Homo sapiens: one gene and its partners. The protein of the gene in region 2 interacts with the protein of the main gene of each other region in a pairwise test. Each region holds a gene or a part of one and is shown on either strand. Other genes may lie near its edges.

Evidence for each region.
Region 1: the proteins of HMBOX1 (region 2) and ANKRD36 interact in a two-hybrid assay, tested with the Homo sapiens proteins (one large-scale study listed by BioGRID).
Region 3: the proteins of HMBOX1 (region 2) and SYT6 interact in binary tests that used the Homo sapiens proteins (3 or more experiments, as listed by UniProt).
Region 4: the proteins of HMBOX1 (region 2) and ABITRAM interact in binary tests that used the Homo sapiens proteins (3 or more experiments, as listed by UniProt).
Region 5: the proteins of HMBOX1 (region 2) and PIP4K2B interact in binary tests that used the Homo sapiens proteins (3 or more experiments, as listed by UniProt).
Region 6: the proteins of HMBOX1 (region 2) and ENTPD2 interact in a two-hybrid assay, tested with the Homo sapiens proteins (one large-scale study listed by BioGRID and IntAct).
Region 7: the proteins of HMBOX1 (region 2) and POLDIP3 interact in a two-hybrid assay, tested with the Homo sapiens proteins (one large-scale study listed by BioGRID).

The regions. Positions count from the first base shown.
Region 1 is NC_000002.12:97,245,653-97,249,152, forward strand, and holds part of ANKRD36 (ankyrin repeat domain-containing protein 36A), read left to right. Parts: coding exon 1-419; intron 420-1,823; coding exon 1,824-1,976; coding exon of another isoform or gene 1,977-2,018; exon of another isoform or gene 2,019-3,491; coding exon 3,492-3,500.
Region 2 is NC_000008.11:29,012,395-29,015,894, forward strand, and holds part of HMBOX1 (homeobox-containing protein 1), read left to right. Parts: intron 1-2,640; exon of another isoform or gene 2,641-2,728; intron 2,729-3,500. UniProt on the Homo sapiens protein: Binds directly to 5'-TTAGGG-3' repeats in telomeric DNA. Associates with the telomerase complex at sites of active telomere processing and positively regulates telomere elongation.
Region 3 is NC_000001.11:114,098,370-114,101,869, reverse strand, and holds part of SYT6 (synaptotagmin-6), read left to right. Parts: intron 1-2,604; coding exon 2,605-2,776; intron 2,777-3,500.
Region 4 is NC_000009.12:108,937,400-108,941,454, reverse strand, and holds the end of ABITRAM (protein Abitram), read right to left. Parts: intron 2,260-4,055; coding exon 2,183-2,259; intron 2,071-2,182; coding exon 2,001-2,070; intron 1,907-2,000; coding exon 1,769-1,906; 3' UTR 501-1,768; downstream 1-500. UniProt on the Homo sapiens protein: Actin-binding protein that regulates actin polymerization, filopodia dynamics and increases the branching of proximal dendrites of developing neurons.
Region 5 is NC_000017.11:38,772,057-38,775,556, reverse strand, and holds part of PIP4K2B (phosphatidylinositol 5-phosphate 4-kinase type-2 beta), read left to right. Parts: intron 1-3,500. UniProt on the Homo sapiens protein: Participates in the biosynthesis of phosphatidylinositol 4,5-bisphosphate. Preferentially utilizes GTP, rather than ATP, for PI(5)P phosphorylation and its activity reflects changes in direct proportion to the physiological GTP concentration.
Region 6 is NC_000009.12:137,047,607-137,051,061, reverse strand, and holds the end of ENTPD2 (ectonucleoside triphosphate diphosphohydrolase 2), read left to right. Parts: coding exon 1-160; intron 161-523; coding exon 524-778; intron 779-1,072; coding exon 1,073-1,192; intron 1,193-1,986; coding exon 1,987-2,121; intron 2,122-2,201; coding exon 2,202-2,405; 3' UTR 2,406-2,955; downstream 2,956-3,455. UniProt on the Homo sapiens protein: In the nervous system, could hydrolyze ATP and other nucleotides to regulate purinergic neurotransmission. Hydrolyzes ADP only to a marginal extent. The order of activity with different substrates is ATP > GTP > CTP = ITP > UTP >> ADP = UDP.
Region 7 is NC_000022.11:42,590,884-42,594,383, forward strand, and holds part of POLDIP3 (polymerase delta-interacting protein 3), read right to left. Parts: intron 1,202-3,500; coding exon 1,072-1,201; intron 1-1,071. UniProt on the Homo sapiens protein: Is involved in regulation of translation. Is preferentially associated with CBC-bound spliced mRNA-protein complexes during the pioneer round of mRNA translation. Contributes to enhanced translational efficiency of spliced over nonspliced mRNAs.

The DNA of each region.
Region 1 (3,500 bases), on a different chromosome or scaffold from region 2:
TCCTCAAAACTGAGCTCCATTACACAGGAGAGGCTCTGAAAGAAAAGGCTTTGGTTTTTGAACACGTGCAAAGTGAGCTAAAGCAAAAACAGAGTCAAATGAAGGACATTGAAAAAATGTACAAAAGTGGATACAATACAATGGAAAAATGCATAGAAAAACAGGAAAGATTTTGTCAACTAAAAAAACAAAATATGTTGCTTCAACAGCAACTGGATGATGCTCGCAACAAAGCTGACAATCAAGAAAAAGCAATACTTAATATTCAAGCCAGATGTGATGCTAGAGTACAAAACCTTCAAGCTGAGTGCAGAAAGCACCGTCTTTTACTAGAAGAAGACAATAAAATGTTGGTCAATGAACTGAATCATTCGAAAGAAAAAGAATGCCAATATGAAAAAGAGAAAGCAGAAAGAGAAGTAAGTATCAAGAAAAATAAGTATTTTTCAAACTTCCTGAAGTAAAATTTAAAGTAATATTTGGTTACAGCTGAATGTTGGATCTAGTTGAATATAAAAAAGGATACATATGATAAATATATCTGCTTAGAAACATTCCTTGTCTCCAGCAAGTCAAAGTTAGAACTGAGAGATGCTTTCCTCTGATTAAAGTCAATGTGTCACTTATAAAATTTTAAGTTATAAAATGTTAACATAGACTAACATTAATAATGTAGTCTTATACTGCTGAAGTAATAATTTTAATGTATTTATGTTGCAACATTTTAAGACCATGATAAATCAGGTATATGGAAATGCTCATACCTAAAATGGTATTTTGAAATTGATTCAATTAAGTGGGGTACTTTGACAGTGAATTTCAGATTTCCTAGATGAACTGAAGTGTATTCCCTATTTCATAATTACTTTTCTTCAGTAGCTTTAAATATGTCTTAGTTGGTAAAATTTTGTTTTTCTTCATGTCAATTTGACTTAAATCTGAAACTATTTCAATCTCAAATTATGTATAGATATGACCATTCTATTCTTTCAAGGCATCTAATTTTACTTCTATTATAATATGGGGCAAATGCAGTAAATTTTAGCCAAATCATGTTTGATTTAATCTTCCCACTGGCATTTATAATTTACTTTCAGTTTTTAAATAAAAAATTTGTTCATAATTTTTATTTCAAGGCTCAATTACTATCATTTGGATATAACTTTGTCCAGGACAAAGAGAGGCATAGCTATCTGTGATTTATTAGTTTGACACTGGATCCCCATTTTCAGACTAAGGAGGATTTCAGACTAACGAGGAGTGGCAGGATTCACGTAGAGTAGGAATGGAGTGAGTACGGAGGAGAGATATAGCAGCTGAGTCAGGGCGGGAGGTGGAGGGCGGGTTACTTAGAGCATCTAAGGCCACTGGAATTTTACTTTTCTTCTGAGATAGACATCTATTGGAAGGATTTAAGCAGATGATTTAATGTGAGGAACTCTGAGGTTGATTTGAGTTTCTAATTTAAAAAAAGAGGGAAATCATTCCACAATGTATAATTTACTACCATCAGTCTCACCCACATACTCATTTCTTTTTGAGACTTCAGAAGGTTTTTAAGCATTGCAGATTCATCAAGGGAGGAATGACTAGTGGGCTGAATATGTTGTGTGAATAACAATACCAGTTTGGCAGGAAGATAACACCTTCTGTATCCTTAACTGGATTCAGTAATACACAGGAATGTGTACACATGAGGAAAAGAAGGTGAATCGGTCTGTGTGGTGATATTTTTCAAAGAGTATGCTTTAGAGTTAAATATTATTAATGGTTTAATAATAAGGTGATTTGTAAAATCAGTAACAAAAATAACATCTTATCAGGTAGCTGTGAGACAGCTTCAACAAAAACGAGATGATGTCTTAAACAAAGGATCAGCAACAAAAGCTCTGCTGGATGCTTCATCGCGTCACTGCACCTATTTAGAAAATGGGATGCAGGATTCAAGGAAGAAATTAGACCAGATGAGAAGTCAAGTATGTATGCAACTTTGCACACCAACAACTGTTAATCTGTAGCTAGTTAACTAATATAAAGTGTTTTGGGGTACTAATTTTAGTGGATGGCTTTCTTTTGTATTTTTATGATAATTAATGTTATTAAAATTTTATAGTGGATGGCTTTCTTCTGTATTTTCCTTATTATTAATTTTATTAAGATTTTATTATAATGCACCTATATCTTAATCTCTGGCTTTCATTCTGCCATTTTTTATACATATATTTTTTTCTTAAATATTTAACCTTAGGAAAGTTGAGAATTATGCATCATTTCTCACAGAAGTTGAGAGAGTTTTTTTTTCCTGTTAAACAGTCTATTTTTAATGATTTCTCTATTGGCATGGTGAGGCAAGCCAGGTTAATTCAGAGGATAATGTCTAATGGAATGTTTCAGAAAATTATCTTCTTTTTAGTCTCTACTTTTCTGAATGTATAAAGAACCTGTGTATACTTATTTCTTAGATTTCAGGTTAACTTGTTCAGAAAGGCCATTTTACTGAATAAATTTTTATTTCGATGAAAATCCTTACTTCCTTTGTATTGGGCTCAGAGAGCACACTCTGTCTCTATATGAATATGGACAGTTAGCATTTGCCAACATGTATCTATTTTCTCTTATTTGTAGAGAAAGCTAAACTAAAAAGGGGGTTATAGAAGGTCAGCAAAGGATGGGTTTGAGATGTTTGGGTTGGTTAAGTGGGCATTTAGACAACAGGGCTTCTCCTTTGGCATGTTTAATGGACATCTTTGCAGTTTAAGATGACGCTTTTAAATCACTTCTCTCCTAATGATGACCTGAGTCCTGCTATTCAATGGGAGAGTCAATAAGATCCTGTAGGATCTTATTTGGAACTGACTTTGTCGATTTTAATTTTGTTCCTGCTTGTTTTTAAATTTTCTTGTTGTTTCCCTAGAAAGGAAAGATGATGCTTAGTTTTAAATATTTAAAAATGTGCAAGTTGCTTTGCTATAATAAAACTAAATGCATACATACAAAAAATAAAATTATAGTTGATGTGGTAGTGTTTGGAATTCAAAATATAAATGCTTAGCGTGAGGTAATCCTTTATCTTTCCACATTTTACCAGTTTGTAAGTTTGAGTATTTAATTGATAAAATGTAATTCAAAAGCAAGAAGAATGTTGTGTTTTAGTCCTAGAGCAGGGGTCTGTGAACTTTTCTGTAAAGGGCCAGATAGTGTTATGTAAGGCTTTGTGAGCCATAAGATCCTTGTTGCAATAACTCGGCCCTGCAATTACAGCACAAAAGTAGCCATGAACAATATGCAGACTGAAGGGGTGTAGCAGTGTCCCACTAAAATTACTTACAAAAAACAGGTAATGGGATGATTTCTCCTAGATTATGACCTTTTATAAATAAAAAAGATTGTGATAGTCTAAAATATTTCATATATATTTTGTTGATTCATTCATCTACTGATGGACATTTAGGTCATTTCCAAATGTAATTTTTTAAAATTCTTTGTTTCAGTTTCAAGAA
Region 2 (3,500 bases):
CACATCTGTACAATGGAATCTTATGGAGCCATATAACTACTTTTTGAAGGCAGCTTTATATGAATTAAATTTATATGAGGTGATATGGAATTCATAAGTAAAAAAGGTACATAACAGTATCAAGGGCATATTTATGTAGGGGAACACACACACATACACATGTATATGCTTATCTAAGCATAGAAATCTCTGAAAAGCTGTGTTAGGAACTGGGAAGAATAGCTCTGTGGAGGGGAACTGAGTGACTGGGAGTACAGGGGTAAGGAGTTAACTACACAGCCTAATGTGTCTTTCTAAATTTCATACTATGTACTTGTATTATATATTTGAAAAATAAAGTGTAATAGGAAGGGGGAGACAGACCAAAAGAAATCAATCTGCCTTGTAAGATTAAAAAGAAAGAAAGAAAAGGAAGAAAAACTTAGGTTTATACAGTCCAGACCTGCTTTTGAGAAGCAGGTAGAAAATAAGTTGTCAGTGATTTTTATCAAGTAATTCTTTTATTTCATAATTTTTTTTTCTGTCTAGGAAAGATAGCTCTTTAGGGTAAATGTAAATAGTGTGATCCCTTTACATATATTCTGAGAAGAAAATGCAAAATTAAGAAAAGTCACAAAATGAAAAACTACTTTTTCTTTTTTCTTCTGTAAATTTAAGCATTTAGAAAACAAAAATGTTTGTATATTCTATGACTCTATTCCTGGGCGTTGGAGCATTTCTCTTTGTATACTTTGAGTGAAGTCCTTTTGTTGTTGTTGTTGAGACAGAGTCTAGCTCTGCCACCAGGCTGGAGTGCAGTGGCGCAATCTTGGCTCACTGCAACTTCTGCCTTTCGGGTTCAAGCAATTCTCCTGCCTCAGCCTCAGGAGTAGCTGGGATTACAGGCACGTGCCGCCACGCCCAGCTGATTTTTGTGTTTTTAGTAGAGATGGGGTTTCACCATGTTGGCCAGGCTGGTCTTGAACTCCTGACCTCGTGATCCACCCACCTCGGCTTTCCAAAGTGCTGGGATTATAGGCATGAGCCACCGCACCCAGCGGAAGTTCTTTTTTTCAACCTCTTCAGTCTGGATCCAGTTGTATATGGCTTTTGGTTTTTTGTAAGTTTCTCTTTAAGTGGACTCATCAAGAAAAATAATAGAATGGATATTTAGGTTAATTTTACTGATAACCCGATTGATATAGTGTAGTTCTCTGATAACAGACTCATCATCAGAATTTACCAGCATAAATGAAAGCCTGCCAAGGCATATTAATAAAATAGGCTGATGGAAACTAATCAAATACATTTTATCTTGTTTCTTATGAAAACACTTATAAGAAAATACCTATTTTTTAAAAAAAAGTGAGTGCTAAATTCAGGATGGTTGACATCAAAAGTCCCTTTATTTAATCAAATTAAGTTCACAGTCTTTTTCCCTTGTCTAATTTAAACATTACTATAGCAGACAGGGTTTGCTGAGTTCCTCTTGGCATGTGGTGCATATTCTGCATGCTTCTAAACAATTAAATAAAATTTGCCAAGAGGGTTATGCAGCAAATACATGAGATAAATGTCATCAGAAGAAACATCCAGTCCTTCACTTGCAGAGTGTTAGATCTCAGGGAAACGTGTGTGACATGGGGGAAGATGTGAAATTACTTTTGGAGAGGTTAGTTCCTATGGATGGCGTAGTAATGATGTGCTTATAGTCCCCTCACCCAGAGCTAACCCTGATCAGCAAGGACATTATGATATATGTAAAGAGAACACTTACCAAATTTTTATATGTCTTAACAAGTTATGAAAAGAGTTTTGGGTTTTTTTTTTCCTCATGGGTTTAGATTTGCTAGGTGAAGGTGCAAAATTTTGTTTTAATGGAAACTTAGATGGGGGGAAAAAAGATTTCTGTAAGGAAATAGACAACACACTTTTCCTGTTAGGACCTTAGCCAACCCAGAATTCCTGTATTTTACTTCAGAGGAGTTTAAAGGCTTAAATACATTGTTCCTGCATTCTAGTGTCTTTGTGTTTTTCTGTTAGAGTCAGTAATTTTGAACTCGCTCTTGCTTTTCATCCATTTCAACCAAAGCAAGATGAACTAAGGTTTCCAGAACAAATCTGTTATTAATAGAGTGTTTCCAGAGTACTTTTTTGTGCTGTTTTTAACTACTGCTACATTGAAAAAGAAAAAGGAGCCAGAAAAAAATCTGAAAAGTAATGTAACATTATGTTTTAAAGTAGGTATTTTGATGAATTTAAGATTATTCATTTTTCACCTTCTGTGTGTAAACTGTCTTGATTTCTTTTTTTTCCCCCACCCCGAGATGGAGTATCACTCTGTCGCCCAGGCTGGAGTGCAGTGGCACGATCTTGGCTCACTGCAACCTCTGCCTCCTGGGTTCAAGCGATTCTCCTGCCTCGGCCTCCTGAGTAGCTGGGATTACAGGCGTGTGCCACCACACCCAGCAAATTTTTGTATTTTTAGTACAGACAGGGTTTCACCATGTTGGTCAGGCTGGTCTCAAACTCCTGACCTCAGGTGTTCCGCCCGCCTCAGCCTCCTAAAGTGCTGGGATTACAGGCATGAGCCACCGCGCCCGGCCTTGATTTCTTTCAAAATAACCAGGCCACTACTTACTTTTCTGTCTTCTTTTTCTCCTTTTTTCTTCTCCCCTCTTCCTTTTCCTTCCTGCCCAGTTTTATTTCATCTGAATTTCCTTCAGTTCTTGAGACTGTCTTGACAATACTGAATATTACAAAGAAGCATAATATTAATAATAAACCCCAATACCAAGAAAGAACCATTATTATTAGTTGGCTTATTTCCTTCAACCTCTTGGTTAGGATTCTTTCTGTTCTGTGTTCTATTTGTACCCATTTACCACTCTGCTTACTAAGGAGCATGCCGCAATTATGGATGTGGCCTACTACCTGGAATTCACTGACCTATTGCCCACCCTCCATCCTGAAGCTCTTTCTTTCTTTACAAGGGTCAGCCCCTGGACAAGAGGTTGTATTCCCTTACTGAGTCTTATTTCTACCTTTATCTTGATCAGCCATGATAACCGGTTGGCTCTGTTTTAGTCCTTTTCACCCTTGCTATAGAATAACATTTATATAATTTTAATTAGGTAGATTCCAGAGCTCTTGCTGTGCTGTAATCCCTACTTGTTTTCAGAAAAGCACTATAAGACTGTGAAACCCTCCAGCCCCCAAATTCCTGCTTATGTCTAAACTTAGTTAACTTTCAATTAGGCCCAGACTGAATTCTCAGTTTATTTTGGCAGAATGAAACCCTTTTAAATTGTTTAAAGAAGGGTTTCAGTTTAGAATTTCATGTTGGGTAGAGCAGAAATGTTTTTAAACCAGGGGTTGGCAAACTTCATATAAAGGGCCAGACAGTAAATATTTTAGGTTTTGCAGGTTATATGATCTCTATCATAGCTACTCAGCTCTTCTGCTCCAGTGCATTCATAGCCATAGACAATCTGTAAATGAATGAGCATGAGCATGTTTCA
Region 3 (3,500 bases), on a different chromosome or scaffold from region 2:
GTATCTGGAACAGTGGATAAAACACAGTAAGCATTCAATAAATAGATACCGAATGAATGGATGGTTGAATTTACAGCATGAGGAACCTGGCCCAAGGGTGAAGCAGTGGGGGTGTACTTGCTAGGAGCCTCTCGAACTAGATCTCCTGTTCTTGAGGATGAGTTTGAGGTTTCCCTCAGCCCAGACTTATTCGATGTTGGACTAAGCTAGGTATTGAATGGAGCTTATTAATTGCCTATTCTTGAATTGTGTGGCATTGATGTCTAAAACCCAGGATCTTCCTATTCTCAATGATCTAAACTAGCCCTGAATCAATTCTCTAAGCCTATCTGCTAGAACCATGACACTAAAAATAGCACAAAATAATAATAAGGACCAGTATGCTACAAAGGGGTGGTGAGCACATTCTAAATGCTGGATTTTGATTGCTCCCATGACAATGAGGCTGAAATACACTGCTGGTCTTTGTGTCCCCTCCCTCAGCTGCGTAGAGCATCATAGGCTGTTAGAGAGGAAAGGACCTCCAAGATCATCTGGGGCCAGCATTCCACTAGAAACCGCAGACTTTTGCCCCAGAAAAGCCTAGGGAACGGTCATCTGTCTGCTTGGCTTCATGGATGCTGGTGAAAGTGTTGGTTCCTGCAAGGGAAATATGTGCACTGAATTTTATAAATTTCATATCAGCCAGGCACAGTAGCTCATGCCTGTAATCCCAGCTACTCGGGAGGGTGAGGTGGAAGAATCACTTGAGCCCAGAAGTTCAAGACCAGACTGGGCAAAACAGCAAGACCTTGTCTCTTAAAAAAAAATGGATATGCCTTGTAAGGATGAACAGAGTTGGGGAAGGTTGCTAAGACATTTGCTCAGTGGCCCATGGGACAAGTGGCTCTGCCTCTATTTTTCCAAGCCTCATGATATGGAAATCTGCCCTGATGTGGGAGTGTATGGAAATAGGTAGAGCAGGGGAATGAGGCGGCACCTGAGCAACCTCAAGTCTGGAGCCACTTTGCAAGAAAAGGTACATCCTTATGGATTTTGCAAGCTGCTGTGTTAAAGACAGGTATTGGGGCTAGCTCTGCCCATCTGTCTACCTGAACCTGAATAATGTCCTGGGGCATATCCATAGAGAATGGAATCTGTGGAAACCAGAGCCTCATGCCGGTTCTCAAAACTCTTACTTCCATTTTACTGAAAATCCCTAAGAGAGGGTCCTTTCAAATGTGTAGTTTGAGACAGCAGGTTGATTAAACACCTCATGGTCTCTCCATAAACCCAACCTCATCTCCCCATGGTTAAGGCATAGCTACTGCTGCCACATGGATTAGTCGGCAGCTCATTTAGGTGTCTACAAAAATGCCTTTCAGGCTTGGAGTTTCTGATCAGGTGTCACAGTTCTCCCTAATTTCCACCAGGGATGTGTGCCTCATCTGCCATCTGAATGATGCCAGGGAGTACAGGGCCCTAGTGGGTGCTCGATGTCCAGGAGATAGAACCATATGCCTATGAATCACAGAGCTGGGGAGCAGCTGCTTGGCTGGCACCTCCTGACAGATTCACAGGAGCCCTGGCTTCTGGGCAACAAGGTGTCTCAGCACATCAGCGTCTCGAAAGCTATTATTACCTGTGAGCCGCCCTCCCATTTCTTGAGCTGTGCAGCATAAATAACAATTATGATGGTGACCGAGACACCTGTGCTATGAGATACACTAGGTTTCACTTCACTTGGGTGAGTAGAAAATTTCAGGGTAGAAAGATGACCATGAAATACCCATTCAGAAAACTAAAGAAAACAAAAGGATGGGAGGCACATGGAAGTTCAATAAAAGCATCTCTTTGCAGGATGGAGAGAATCCAAGATCCCACTGAGAAAGGAAATGTCAACCAGCTGCCCTGAGTCTCCCCGGGCCACAGCTCCCTCATTCTCCACTGTCCAGAAGTGGGCAGGAAATGGCTTCCAGGGAAGCAGAGAGCAGGGCCACTTCACGCCTTCTAGATGCCAAATGGAAATGGGATTATTGAGACAATGGGACCCAAAATTATGTTGTCAGGTGGGGAGGACATGAACAGCATTGTGATTGTTGCTGTTCATTTCACTCTGACACATTGTGTCTCCCTGGCCATTGTTGAGTCCTATTTTTACCCCGCCCCAAAACCTTTATCCTTTGGTTTGTAATTCTGGTAAAACAAAAAAGCCACTCAAAGAATAGTACTCCACATAGGTAAAAGAAATAGTGTCATTGTTCAGCCTCATCACCTTTTTGAGTCAGCCAGGGATTGACGAGCTGAGATTTAGGGCTGTGAACTGCATACCTATCGGCAGGTGTCATGTCTGATATGGGGCCAGCTTCCCCATTAGTAAAAGTCCATTAGGCGCTCTCCCAAGAATACTGAGGTAGCTAAAGACTCTGCATTTATTAAGCACAGAGTGTCCTCAGAGACAGGTGTGCTACATAAATACAAGGTGGTTTAATTATTTTAACAACCCACTGATACCATCTGATGAGCAGCAGTAGGTCTAGGGCTTCGGTCCCTTTGCTGCAAATGATGTTTGCAGACATCTGTTTAACATACTCCATTCCCTTTTCTCTGTCCCCATTGGCACAGATCCCTATGTGAAAGTGTCCTTGCTCTGTGATGGGCGGAGGCTGAAGAAGAAGAAAACAACCATAAAGAAAAACACTCTCAATCCTGTCTACAATGAGGCCATCATCTTTGACATTCCCCCGGAAAACATGGATCAAGTCAGCCTGCTCATCTCAGTCATGGACTATGATCGGTAGGTAGGCGTCCTAGAGGGACGTAATTCTACCCCTCACTCCCACTCCAGCACCAGCACAGGGCTCCTTGACCTTAGACCTTGTGATTCAGGGCTCAGCTTTAGGGTTCAGGCCTCAAATCTATCTGTACCCAAGAAGGGTGCAGGAGTTTGAGGAAGAGCATAGATTCTCCCTTAGCAAAGGTTCAAAGTTCTTTTCCCAACTGGCCTATCTCCGTCAGGGGCAGCTCTGTCCATCAGTTTCCCTGAATTCACCCCTTGCTATTCCCATTCTTCCATCTGGCACCAAGTCCTATTATCTGGCCTTTGAAATGCCCCTCTATCCTCTCTATTTCTGCTGTTGCTACTACTGTCACCCTGGGATGGCTGTGCAGCCTCCTAGCTGACCCCTGCCTCCATCAATTCCTGCCACAATTCGGTCAACATACTAAGGACACATCTTCCTAAATGACAGCTTTCTTCCTGGACCTGCCCTTCTCAAGAACCATCAATGGCTCCTGTGATCCAGGCTTTTCCCTTGGACTCTGATGGCCTTCCCTAATCTGGACCCAGCATATCCATCCAATCGGATCTCCCCTTCCTCAGATATTTTTCGTCTCTTCCACTCATCCTGCTCTTCCATCTAGGCTGGCTCAAAAACATTTTTCAACTACTCTGGTCCCCATAACTTCTTCTCTCCACTTGTCACTTTAGCTAAAGGAGAAAGAAACCATGCAATAAAGCC
Region 4 (4,055 bases), on a different chromosome or scaffold from region 2:
AATTACAATAGAAATAATGGGAGAATGATGTGAGGTAATGTTACATGTAAAATGTTATACACAATTCTTTTACTACGTTTACTGTCATAGTTTTATGACGCCTTCAAGAGTCATTGTGCTACTTAAAGTGAGGATCTGCTGGTTTGTTTATATTTTCAGCTAATAGCACCATCGTGGAGGTGTTTATCCACTTACTACATGTATCATGTCTGGGGGGTATATTTAGGGGGATAGTCATGCTGGCACTCAGATTACAAGTTTTTCCTATGAACCAAAATGTTGTTTTATTTACAAAATAAGTAAGTATTATTTTGTAAATAATTAAAACTTAAAAATTCCAACCCCCACTTGTACTTTCATTAGATAATATTTTTGCATACCTGAAAAAATACTGTTCTCTAGTGAAAGAAAGAGCAAGTGGGGGTTGGGAAGGGGTAACTTATGACTTCAACAGCATAAGAGGATAGATAACCAATGGAATTAATACATCGAATGATTTCTTCTGTATAAAAGTATATTTTATTTAAAAACAGTGATATTGACATGTATGTTATAGCCCTTACAGAAAAATAACACGTTTTATAGTCCTTTTATTTGAAATTCAGTGTAAATCACTCTTAAACTATAAATTCACAGTTGTTGGAGGTTTTTTTTTACTTTAAATGATGTGAAAGCATTTGTTCCATTCAAAGGCCCCTATGCCTTTGAATGACATATTCTCAGTAACTTCTTTGCCAGTAACTAGAGTATGTGAGACTGAGTAACTATAATGTGCATATTTCAAGAATTAGCTTCCCGCTGCATTATAACACATTTCCTAGGAAAGCCTTTGTATTTTTCATAGCCTTTTCACATATCCCTCATTTAAGAAGTCACAGTGTTGCAGTTTTACTTTGTTTCAGAGGGGAAGGCCATCTTGTTGGCATAAGGGGGACAGAAGATATAATATACTCTACACTCCGGCCTCTTCCCTACAACCTAAAAGGGAGAGGAGTTGAGGCAGATGGGCTAGGACTAGGCTTTTTGGTAGGCACATTATAGAAGACTGGGTAAGAAAGGTGGGTTAGGTTTTTTTAAACTTCAAACTGTTAGGAAAACGAGGCAAAAGCAATAACCATACCATATGTTCAAACAGAAGTAGGTTAAAATGTAGTAGTTATCCCTTGGTTTACATAGGGGATTGGTTCCAGGAACTTCCACATATACCCAAATCCATACGTGAGAACTCAAGTCCTGCAGTTGGCCCTTTGGAACCTGAGTATATGAACCTGCTCTATAAGTGGGTTTCGTGTTTGGTTAATGATATATTTTTGACTCGTTTATAGTTGAAAATAGTCCATGCATAAGTGGACCCTTGCAGTTCAAACCTATGTTGCTCAAGGGTCAAATGTATTTACTTCTGGATTATGGGATGATGGGTAAATTATTTTTACTTGGCTACTTAAAACTCTTCTGTATTTTCTAAATCTTCTTCAAAGAGCTTTGTTTGTTTTTAATCAGAAAAACATGCCTTGCATGCCAGTTGTTAGAGAGATGCAAGAGAACAGTGTGAGTACATGGGCAGGCCAGATCTGGCAGGCTGTAGACAAATGGGAACCAAGGCTCATTATGAAGACAGAGAGGGAAAACTAAGTGAAGCACTAGGCCTCCCCTGCATATGGCTGGCTGTTAGGTATGCTTTACATATACTGGTTCTTCTCCTTTAGTACCCTGATGGTTTAGGCCAGGTAACAAGAATCCCACTTTGCTTTTTGTTCCATGTCAATCCTCATGACGTAGCTGTTGTGGCATTAATGCGTTTCACCATGACTTCTTCATATTGTTTTTGTGTCAGTAACCCTTCTGTTATGCTTTTACTTTCTTCAAATTTGGGTAACACAACTGCAATGTAGCCTTCAGTAGATGGCTGGAAAGGAAAGAACATTTAGTACTGTCAAACGATGAAAAAAAAACCAATAAAAGGTATGTGGATGAGATCATATTTTTTCTCTCTCTTTTACCTTTTCTTGAAGAATAGATGGCTTATGGAGGATGTTTTCATTCACTTCCATCAAACGTCCTCTAACACAACTATTAAAAAAATTTAAGATTTCAGCATGTTTACTTAGTTAAAAAAAATTGTTTCTAAGAAAAAAAATTACCTCCCTTTGGTCTCCTAAATGGTGGCTAAAAAGTTACTCACCTAGACACAGTATATTCTTCACCATCTGAGCAGTAAATCTTACAGAGAGGTGCAAGCTCTGTTAGAAACTGTGCCCCCTGTGTAATGAGACGGAAGAAGTAATCAGTTGATGGACATTTCCACTTTCCTTTGAGAAGTAGCCCTTAGGTGTATAACAGGATGTATTCCTGGAACTGGTGTTTTAAATCAGTTACTTCAGTATATAAAAACCATTCATTAATTTCAGAACCTATATGAATATAAGTACCTACTGTGTGCCAGGTGCCATCCTAGGTCTAGGGAAAAAAGCTAAGACACATGATAAATGGGAATTTACAGACTGATAATATATTTTATCAACTGTAAATGAAAAAGCTACATATAACCAGGTATAAAGATTTCAAAAGTGTGGGAAAATCCATCAACAAGAAACAATATAAAATTCAACATGACACAGTATGACAGCAATATTGTATAAAGTTAGTTTCATTAAGATTTCTACCTCATTTTAATATTAGAACTTAATAGATAAAGGAACTTATTTACCAGGGTCAATCACTAAGACTTTTTGAAGAAGGGATATTGTTCTTTCCCCCCCCCCCCTTTGTAATTCCCCAGTGTGTTAGTAAGGGATATTTTTTCTAGTTAAGAAAAACAAAAACAAAAACATGCACTTTGAGGAAAATGTGGAAAACAAAAGTTTTAAGCAGCAAAATAAAAATAATTGACCCATGAGTCAATACTACATTTTGATGTGTATGTATTTGAATGTCATGGCATGGTTATTGTTTCATGTACTCCACTAGATGGATATACCTGGGGAGGCTCTCACAAGTATCTACAGGGAGGCTCATGAGAGCCAGTGCAGGCATGTTTCATGTGTTGCCCTCTTTTCTCCCATGAATTTTTCCTGTAGTGGACATAGGCATTTCAGGTTAAGATGCTATTCTTTATGACCCCTTTATTTACCACTCAAAACATTTTTAGATGGCATTCAGATATTACTATATTGGCTTCACTCCTCCGCACGTGGGTTCTTCATTTTAAAATACTAGAGTCATTGTGACTTTCTGCTTTTGGAAGGAAGGGGAAGGCTTGTGTTAAAAGAGCAGACACAAAAGAGCTAGGTCTGTGCCAAAACAGCAGAAATGTTTTGATGCCTTTTTGTCACCTCCTTTGGGAGAATGATTGGCAGTTCTGAGATCCAGTGAAAACTTACTGTAGTGGGTTCAATATGCAGGTCCCTCTCTGTTCTTCACTTGTAACAGGAGTGTTACTTTTTTTTTTTTTTTTTTTTGAGACAGGGTCTTGTTCTGTCATCCAGGCTGGAGTGCAGTGCTGCCATCATGGCTCACTGCAGCCTTGACTCCTGTGCTCAAGCAATCCTCTTACCTCAGCCTCCTGGGTAACTGGGACTATAGGCACATGCCACCATGCCCAGCTAATTAAAAAAAAATTTTTTTTTTTTGGTAGAAATGAGGTCTTGTTATGTTGCCTAGGTTTGTCACAAATTCCTGGCCTCAAGTGATCTTCCCGCCTCGGCTTCCCAAAGTGCTGGGATTACAGGCATGAGCAACTGTACCTGCCTTAAGTGTTACTATTTTGGACAGAGATTTATCATTGAAACTTCAGAAGTCTTAAGTGTTATTGTAACTTGTAGACTATCGTTTAAGAGAGGTGCATGCTTTTCTAAGTCCACTAGTTTCTTGAGTGAGGAAAAATCAGTAATTGTAAAGCACAATAAATCAGTAATTATTAGGGGACTTCAGGCCTACAAAGGGGGGTTTGAATAAGGGTCTCCTAGAATAGTGAGAGCAATTAGCAGAAACTCTTAGTATGAACTCAGTAAATGAACGACTTAAATCATCCACAGAAACTTTCCCAACCAGTGGGT
Region 5 (3,500 bases), on a different chromosome or scaffold from region 2:
AGCTGAATAAGGCTGAGCATGGTGGCTAACACCTGTAATCCCAGCAGCTCAGGAGGCTGAGGCAGAAGGACTGCTTGAGGCCAGAAGTTGGAGACCTGGGCAATTTACTGAGATCCTGTCTCTACAAAAAATTAAAAACTAGCTGGGTGTGGTGACATGTGCCTGTAGTCCTAGCTATTCAGGAGGCTGGGTGGGAGGATCCCTTGTGCCTAGGAGTTCACGGTTGTGGTGAGCTATGATCATGCCACTGTGCATCAGCCTGAACTAGAGGGTAAGACCCCATCTCTTTAAAAAACAAAACAAAAGCTAGGCGCGGTGGCTCACGCTTGTAATCCCAGCACTTTGGGAGGCCAAGGCAGGCGGATCACGAGGTCAGGAGATCGAGACCATCCTGGCTAACACGGTGAAACCCCGTCTCTACTAAAAATGCAAAAACAAAATTAGCCAGGTGTGGTGGTGGGCGCCTGTAGTCCCAGCTACTCGGGAGGCTGAGGCAGGAGAATGGCATGAACCCGGGAGACGGAGCTTGCAGGGAGCCGAGATCGTGCCACTGCACTCCAGCCTGGGCGACAGAACGAGACCTCATCTCAAAAACACACACACACACACACACACAAAAACTGATTAATATTCCATTGTATGGATGTATTACATTTTGTTTATTCATCAGTTAATGGACACTTGTTATATCAGTTGGGGTTCTCCAGAGAAACAAAACCTATAGGATGTTTTGTAAATCTCTTTATACCAAGATATTTATTTTTTATTTTATTTATTTATTTTTTTTGAGACAGAGTCTTGCTCTGTCACCCAGGCTGGAGTACAGTGGCGCGATCTTGGCTCACTGCAAGCTCCGCCTCCCGGGTTCACGCCATTCTCCTGCCTCAGCCTCCCGAGTAGCTGGGACTACAGGCGCCCACCACCATGCCCAGCTAGTTTTTTTTGTATTTTTAGTAGAGATGGGGTTTCACCATGTTAGCCAGGATGGTCTTGATCTCCTGACCTCATGATCTGCCTGCCTCGGCCTCCCAAAGTGCTGGGATTACAGGTGTGAGCCACCACGCCCGGCCCTAAGAGATTTATTTTAAGGAATTGTTTCATGGGATTATGGATACCAACGAGATCTGCAGTCAGCAAGCCGGAGGCCCAGGAGAGCTGGTGGTGTGGTTTTATTCTACAGGCCATCAGGCCACCAGGCAGAAGGAGTTCCCTCTTCCTCACCGGAGGGTCACCCTTTTTCTTCTCTTCAGGCCTTCTGCTGATTGGATGATGCCCATCCACACTGGGGAGGGCCATCTGCTTTACTCAGTCCACCAGTTCAATGCTCATTTCACCCAGAAACCCTCACAGACACACCCAGAATAATGCTTGACCAAGTGTCTGGGCACTCAGGCCCAGTCCAGCTGGCATATACAATTAGCCATCACACTTAGGTTGCTTCCACCTTGTAGCTGTTGGGAATAATGCTACTGTGAACATGGGTGTCATAAACTTCGTTTTGCTAGGAAGCGTTTCCTTAGTCACCCCCAACTATGTTCTTTCCTTATTCTGCCTTTCATCATCTGACATTATTTGTCCTGAGTCTTTGTCCTTCTCCCTTTTCTACCCTCTCCCCCTACTGTGGTTCTGAGAAGAATTTAATGCAGTTTACTCAGTGCATTTGTTTTCAATGCATGTTGCTTTATAAATGTTCTCAGGTGGGTGGAGGGCATGGTGCATGGACCTTCTTTTTCCTGGGACCCTAGCCCCTTCTCCCTGGGCCTTGAGAAGGCTTTGTCTGGAAGTGCTCAGAGTGGCATCCCTCCCTCCCTTCCTCTTCCAAGGAGATCCTGCTGGGCTCCCATCTTTAGGGCTCCTTGTCCTTAGTTGTGTTCTGGGCTCGTGCATAGAGCTGCTCTGCTTCCATGATGATTCTCCTCCTAGTTCTCTGTTAGGACCTAACATGGTGGTCAGTCTAACAGTCTCCTAGTGACCACTGTATGATGGTGACTGCACTCTTGCCTCATTATTAGCTAAACTGGAATGCTAGCTGGCCATTTCCATCCTGTATCATTCCATACTTTGTCTTGAAATCCTAGATAAAAGACTTGAACCACCACCCTGCTCACAGCACCCATTATACAGATGAGAAAACTAAGGCTTGGCAAGGGGAGTCACATGATGCTAGGGGAGGACTTTCCCCCAGCACCACACAGCCTCTTTTGACCTTCAGGGAATGGGTTGAGAATATTGGTTGGTTCTGGCTGCCATTCTTGTATGGTTTTGTGTTCCCTTTTCCTTTTTTTTCTATTTTTACCTGGGCTGAAAAGTCGATGACATAGTTTTTTCAGACTTTGTCTCTGAGGCCAGTTAGAAGTATATTTTACCTTGCAACCCAATGGATACACACAACTGAAACACTGTCTACCCTTATTTTCTGTCATGTATTCTGATATTTTCTATTCTATTTTATTATACAGTAGTCCCCCCTTATCAGCAGGGGACATGTTCCAAGATCCCCAGTGGACGCCTGAAGCCACAGATAGTACTGAACCCTGTATATACTATGCGTGAATTTTTTTTCCTTCTTCACAATTTCACGGATAGAAGATTTGTTCTTACAGGAGATCTTAGCAACCTCAGCATGCAATTTATTTTCTTTGTAAGTCAAGAGCTTTCACCTTTTCACTTAAAGCTGGCCAGGTGCAGTGGCTCACACCTGTAATCCCAGCACTTTTGGGAGGCTGAGGCAGGTGGATCACTTGAGGTCAGGAGCTCGAGACCAGCCTGGCCAACATGATGAAACTGTCTCTACTAAAAATACAAAAATTAGCTGAGTGTGGTGGTGCATGCCTGAAGTCCCAGCTACTTGGGAGGCTGAGACAGGAGAATCACTTGAACCTGGGAGGTGGAGGTTGCAGTGAGCCGAGATTGCACCAGTGCACTCTAGCCTGGTGACAGAGCAAGACTCTGTCTCAAAAAAAGAAAGCACTTTATGGCTTCTCTTTGGCATATCTGAATTGCCAACATCACTACTCTTGCTCTGTGGAGTCATAATGAAGTCAAATATGGGTTACTTGAATACAAGCACTGTGATACAACTATAGTGAACTGATAACCAAGACAGCTACGGACAGCTACTGAAAGACTAATGGGACGTTAGTGCATACAGTGTGGATATACTGCACAAAGGGATAATCTGCATCCTGGGCAGCACTGAATGGGACATAGCAAGATTTTATCATGCTACTCGGAATGGTACACTATTTAAAAACTTATGAATTATTTCTGGAATTTTCCATTTAATATTTTTGGACTGTAGTTGACCACAGGTAACTGAAACCATTGTGGATAAGGGTGGACTACTGCATTTAATTTAAAGAAATCCTAGTTCCAGCCCACTACATTGGGTTTAGGACTCATAATGGGTTGAAATTTTGATCTGAAATATATTGTTGTGTCATATCCATCGCTCCATCCTCTTCCATAGTATATCATTTCATTATTTCTTTCCTCAAACT
Region 6 (3,455 bases), on a different chromosome or scaffold from region 2:
CTCTACCCAGATCACTTTTGAGACAACCAGTCCAGCTGAGGACAGAGCCAGCGAGGTCCAGCTGCATCTCTACGGCCAGCACTACCGAGTCTACACCCACAGCTTCCTCTGCTATGGCCGTGACCAGGTCCTCCAGAGGCTGCTGGCCAGCGCCCTCCAGGTGCCCCTCCACCCTGGCTCACCTGCACTGCACTGTTCCCTCCTGGAGCAGAGCCTGGACAGCCACTGTGCTGTGGAAGGCTTCTCCAGGCTGGGCTTTAATTGGCTGGAAAGACAGGTGGGAGGGTCAGAGCATGAGCAAAGGCCCAGTGGCTGGGCTGGGCCTGGAGAAGGGAGGGCCAGGGACGGCTCTCAGAGGGAGCCTGGTCAGGGGCGTTGGGATCTGTCAAGCAGGCAGTGGGGAGCCATGGATTGCCCCTGAGCACAAAAGTGAAGTTGCCAGAGTGAGACCTGTGGGAGGTTTGTCAGGCTGGTCCTCTGGAGCGGTGGTGGTGCCACCCTGTCACGCTGGTGATTCCCCCAGACCCACGGCTTCCACCCCTGCTGGCCGAGGGGCTTTTCCACCCAAGTGCTGCTCGGGGATGTGTACCAGTCACCATGCACCATGGCCCAGCGGCCCCAGAACTTCAACAGCAGTGCCAGGGTCAGCCTGTCAGGGAGCAGTGACCCCCACCTCTGCCGAGATCTGGTTTCTGGGCTCTTCAGCTTCTCCTCCTGCCCCTTCTCCCGATGCTCTTTCAATGGGGTCTTCCAGCCCCCAGTGGCTGGGAACTTTGTGGTGAGTAGGGGCAGGCGGGTGGCTGGGAACTTTGTCGTGGGTAGGGACAGGCGGGTGGCTGGGAACTTTGTCGTGGGTAGGGACAGGCGGGTGGCTGGGAACTTTGTCGTGGGTAGGGACAGGCGGGTGGCTGGGAACTTTGTCGTGAGTAGGGATAGGCGGGTGGCTGGGAACTTTGTCGTGGGTAAGGGCAGGCGGGTGGCTGGGAACTTTGTCGTGAGTAGGGACAGGCGGGTGGCAGCAGGTGCTCTGAGCCGCTGGGGTTCGGTCACAGTGTGACTGCGCCCCCTACAGGCCTTCTCTGCCTTCTTCTACACTGTGGACTTTTTGCGGACTTCGATGGGGCTGCCCGTGGCCACCCTGCAGCAGCTGGAGGCAGCCGCAGTGAATGTCTGCAACCAGACCTGGGCTCAGGTGAGCCCCGCTCCCACTCCTTCAGGGCTGTGCGGAAGGGCTCAGCCTCCGCCTCCGCATGCCTCCCCAGCCCTGCATGGACAGGCCTCTCGGAGCACCCGCTGCAGTGGGGGCGATGGCAGGCATTAGGCTGACTCCAGAGGTGGCGTGGCTGTGGCCGGTAGGCTGTGAACAAGTCGGGCGGGTTGGAGAAGCTTCGCCAGGCCCGACCCTCATCCCAGATCTGGAGGGCAGGGGGAGGCCGGTGCCCAGGTTTCTGGCTTCTGCCACTGGTTCCCTCCATGGTACCACACAAGGGAAGATGGAAGTGGGTCTGGGCACCGGGAGTGTGCCCACCGGAGACTCCAAGAGAAACGTACGAGTCGTCCCAGGACCGGGGTGGTGAGCGAGGCCCCATTTTGTCCTCCCAGGGCCTAGTCTCAGACAGACTGGGGTGAGGGAGGTGGGGACAGGCGGCGAGCCAGCGGGCAGACTCAGGCCTGGAGCTCGTCCTGTTCCCCTGGCCACACACCAAGGTGTTGCTGCCTCCTGCTCCCTGGTGGCCATGCCTGCTGTCCCTCCTCACTGGCCTTCCAGGCATGGGCGCTGGCTGGGGAGGGATGGAAGCGTGCCCTGCCGGGGGTGCCCCTCGGACTCGGTCTTGCCATTCGTGTCCGGGCCTGTGTGGTGGTCTCTGGCCTCGCACGGCCCGTGTGTGTCTGGGGAGGGGTGAAGCACGCCGCCGGCCCCCTCTCCCCGTGGGGCCGAGACCTCCTGGTGGTCGCCTGCCTGACGGTGTCCCGCCCGCGTCCCAGCTGCAAGCTCGGGTGCCAGGGCAACGGGCCCGCCTGGCCGACTACTGCGCCGGGGCCATGTTCGTGCAGCAGCTGCTGAGTCGCGGCTACGGCTTCGACGAGCGCGCCTTCGGCGGCGTGATCTTCCAGAAGAAGGTGGGCTGGGGCGGGGCGGGGCGGGGCCGACCTTGCGGGGCGGGGCCTCTCGGGAGCTGAGGCCACGCCCTTCCCCGCAGGCCGCGGACACTGCAGTGGGCTGGGCGCTCGGCTACATGCTGAACCTGACCAACCTGATCCCCGCCGACCCGCCGGGGCTGCGCAAGGGCACAGACTTCAGCTCCTGGGTCGTCCTCCTGCTGCTCTTCGCCTCCGCGCTCCTGGCTGCGCTTGTCCTGCTGCTGCGTCAGGTGCACTCCGCCAAGCTGCCAAGCACCATTTAGGGGCCGACGGGGGCAGCTGCCCCATCCCTCCCCCAACCCCTGTATCCCCACCCCGTACTCCCACCCCTCCCACAACCCCTGTACCTCCCACCCCTGTATCCCCACCCCTCCACCCACCCCTCTCCCAACCTCTCTCCCCGCCCCTGTATCCTGCATTCCTCCACCCACCCTCTATCCCCCACCGCTCCACCCCACCACTGTCTTCTCCATCCTTCCACCCCACCCTCAGCGTCTCTGCCCCTAAGGCAGCCCAGGAAATAGGAACTGAGACTCTGGTACCCACAGGAGCCTGGGTGGGCAAAGAGCGCTCAATCCAGCTCCTTGAACCCCTCCAGCCCGCTTCAGCCTGGGCATCACTGCAGGCCCCGTGCTCCTCCTCCTCCTCCTCAGGGCTGGGTCTCCAGAGAGTGGGGCCTTGGTCCTGAGAATCAGCCCTTAGAGGCTCCTTCTGTGTAGTCTGGGTCTGTACTGGGGAGGGTCACAGCCCACGGGCTGGCAGCCAGCCCAGCACCTACTTGTAAAAATTTTGTAATAAAAAGTTTTTCCTAGAGACGTGAAAGGAGAGTGTCTGTGGGGTGGGGCATCCTTGCTGTGGCCTGTGCCCCCACCTTCCCGCTGTTCTAGCCGCACGGGCCTGCCCTTGGTCCTGAGGGTGGACACCATCCCTCCCTACTGCCTTCTGCTCTGGAGCCAGGCCTGGGGCACTGGCTGCTGCCCTGGTGTGCCGTGGCAGCCTAGAGTAGCTGCAGGATGGCTGGCCCGAGGGAATGTTCCTGGGCCCTTGAGTCTTCTCTGGCCAGCAGAGTTCCCCAAAACCATCACATCCAGATCTGCGTTGGTGACCAAGGCCAGACTGAAGGTTGGGTCCTGGTACAGTGAGCCTGGGGGTGAGGGTAGAGGTCAGGGAGGTGGCGGAGAGTGGGTGGCAGCCAGCCAGGCGGCTTCCTAGGGGGCAGTCAGTGCTGGTAGAGACTGGCGGGAGGGCAGGCCCACATCAGGAGGTGGCACAGGGGTGGGAGATGAGATCAGGACCAGGACCCATAGGCAGGA
Region 7 (3,500 bases), on a different chromosome or scaffold from region 2:
CAACATGGTGAAACCCTATCTCTACTAAAAATACAAAAAAATTAGCTGGGCTTGGTGGCGTGCACCTGTAGTCCCAGCTACTTGGGAGGCTGAGGCAGGAAAGCCGCTTGAACCGGGGAGGCGGAGGTTGCAGTGAGCTGAGATCACGCCACTGCACCCCAGCCTGGGCAACAGAGAGAAACTCAAAAAAAATAAAAAAATAAAAAAATAATAAAAAATAAAAATAAAAAAAAGAAAGAAAAAGGAAAATAAGTATCTTTCCACATCCAAACATATGACAAAAAATAAGAAAAAACAAAAAAAGAACAGAAATTCAAAACAAAATTAATTTCTTTAATGACATACAAATGGCCAATAAGCACATGAAAAGGTGCTCAACATCATTAGCCATGGGGAAATGCAAATCAGAACTCCACTGACTCACCCAGGGGAGTTCACCCAGGTGCCAAGATTTAGCCAAGGCTCCAGGTCTTTTATTTGTAATTTTTTTTATTGTTGTATTGTTTTATTAGTCTCTGCTTCTCCACTTCTAGCACAGGGCCTTGGTCCACAGTAGGCACTCAATACATACTGAAAGAACAAATGAGTGGAAAAGGAGCATGGCAGACAGAATTCTTCTCTACAGGCTGTCTGGAGATGAAAAATATGAACCTCAAGTCAATAAAGTCTGTTGTTTACCCACCAGGAGCAGCTCTCACCCAGGTGTCAACATTCAGACAAAACTCCAGGGCTGGGAGGAACTTCTGCCCTAGCACTAAACAGATCAACATCTGGGAGGCAACAGCTGTGCCTCTTGGCTCCCCTGGCAAGACCCCTTAAGAGAACCATCCATGGAGAAATGCTGTTTTCCTTTTTGCTGGGCTCAAAAGCTTAAGGGCTGGGTGAAAATCCAGGGCCCTGTGTAACCCACAGCTCAGGACTACTCAGAGACTGCACGGCAGTTCCTGGTGCAGACGAGGCCCCAGAGATGGGTTCCACCCATCTCACAGAGACTTCCCCTGGAAGGCCTGCTACCTGACAGCAAGTAGAGATGAGTGGGAGGGTCAGGGGACTGCTTTCTCCCTAACTTACCGTCCAGACACCGGTTGTTGTACTTCTTATATGCGGTGATGGCATCGTCCTTTTTCACAAACACCACCTCCGCTACCCCAGGATGGACCAGTCGAGCTCGCTTGAGGGCCCCACACACACAGAAAAGCTCCTGCACACAACAAGAGGGGTTGGGATTGGGGAAGGATTTCTCAGCACCTGCCGCTCACACACTCTGAAGGCCCTGGGGTGTGGTGGTTCCGCTGCAGCTAAATGCGCCCTGCGCCTGAGACTGCGGGGAGGCTCCACGCGAGGTGGTGCTCTGGAGACATCCACAGGCTTCAACACAGCACCAGATGAGGTCAGCAGTGGGAAAGGGGCTGGGTTTACAAGCCTTGGATCACCTGGGATCTCCCAGCAAGCCACCACCAAAGTCTTCAGTGCCCACCTCAACAGGGATAAAACAGTTATGAAAATTTTCGCAAAGAGCCCTGTCATTAGAATACATGTATACAAAGAAAGACAGCTGCTAATATGTCACCTGAGAATCTGTTACAAATACAAATTCTGGAGTTCTACCCAGAGTCCTGGTTTGGCTGGACTGAAGGGTTTCCCTGGACATGAGACTTTGAGTGATGAAACCAGGAGAGTCCCCAGCAAAACAGGGACAGTTGGTCACTCTAAGTCAGACCTGAGTTTGATCCCCCAGGCTCTGCTTTCTATCTGCTATGAGACGTCTAGCAAATTACTTAACTTCTCTGAGCCTGTTTCCTCCTCTGAAAATAAAAAGGACTAGCTTACTTCCCAGCTTTACTGGAAAGCTCAACTGAGATAATTTTTAAGGCAGTGCTTTGCACACATCATTGAGTCCGATCTCCACCTCATTTTACAGACAAGACGACTAAGGCCAGAGAGGGAGCAAAATGTGAAGATGGACAGAGGCTGACTAGCACTCACGCCATTTCTTCACCTGCAACTGCCTTCACAAGGTTGCTGTGAGGGCCAAAAGAAGGTTTATGAAAAGGTCCTTGACATGGTTTGTTTTTAATGGTAAATATCAAAACAAGATGCCCCTCTGCACCTGCAGGAGACTGGTTCCAGAACCGCTCGCAGATACTAAAATCTGTAGATGCTCAAGTCCCTGCTATAAAATGCTGTAGTATTTACACATAACCTATGCACATCATCCACTATACTTTAAATCATCTCTAGATTACTTATAATACCAAATACAATGTAAATGCTATATAAATAGTTATACTGTATTTCTAAAATTTGTATTATTTCTCATCATACTGTTATTTTTAAAAATTTGAGTATTTTCATTCAGTGGTTGGCTAAATCCACAGATGCAGAACCGACAGATATGGAGGGCCAACTATAAATAGTAGGTGTAATTCCAATTTTATTACCATTGTCCTTTTAACATTGCCTATTTGGGTAGAAGAGAAGCGAGGGTGATTATTACTAGCAATTTCCCCTGAGCACTGATCATGACTGGTGTTTAGTTTTCCACCATTATGTATCTTCCAAGAGTCTGCCTAAAGTGACTGGCACATAGCAAGTACTCAGTAAATGGCAGTTGTTATTACGCTCCTTAACAGCTTTAATTCTTTTCTTTTTTTGAGAGAGTCTCACTCTGTCACCCAGGCTGGAGTGCAATGGCGTGACCTCGGCTCACTGCAACTTTCACCTCCCAGGTTCTAAGTGATTCTCCTGCCTTAGCCTCCTGAGTAGCTGGGACTACAGGCACGTGCCACCACGCCTGGCGAATTTTTCTGTTTTTAGTAGAGACAGGGTTTTGCCATGTTGGCCAGGCTGGTCTCGAACTCCTGACCTCAGGTGATCCACCAACCTTGGCCTCCCAAAGTGCTGGGATTACAGGCGTGAGCCACTGCACCCGGCAATCAGCTTTAATTCTTAATGACTTGTCAAGTATTACACAAAATAGGCTACAATTTCCATCCTCACGTGCACCATTCACAGTACTGTCCCTGCTAAAGGAGAAGGAGATACGAGTGACCCATCTCACGGCATGCGTGTGTTTCACAATTAAGATTTAACCTCAGCTGGGCACAGTGGCTCACACCTGTAATACCAGCACTTTGGGAGGCCAAGACAGGCAGATCATGAGGTCAGGAGTTCAAGACCAACACGGCCAACATGGTGAAACCTCGTCTCTACTGAAAAATACAAAAATTAGCCGGGTGTGGTGGCACACGCCTATAATCCCAGCTACCAGGGAGGCTGAGGCATAAGAATCACTTGAACCCAGGAGGCGGAAGTTGCAGTGAGCCAAGATCGCACTACTGGCACTCCAGCCTGGGCGACAGAGCAAGACTCCATCTTTAAAAAAAACAAATCGAGGTGGGTGGATCATTTGAGGTCACGAGTTCGAGACCAGCCTGGCCAACATGGTGAAACCCTGCCTCTACTGAAAATACAAAAATTAGCCAGGCGTAGTGGCAGGC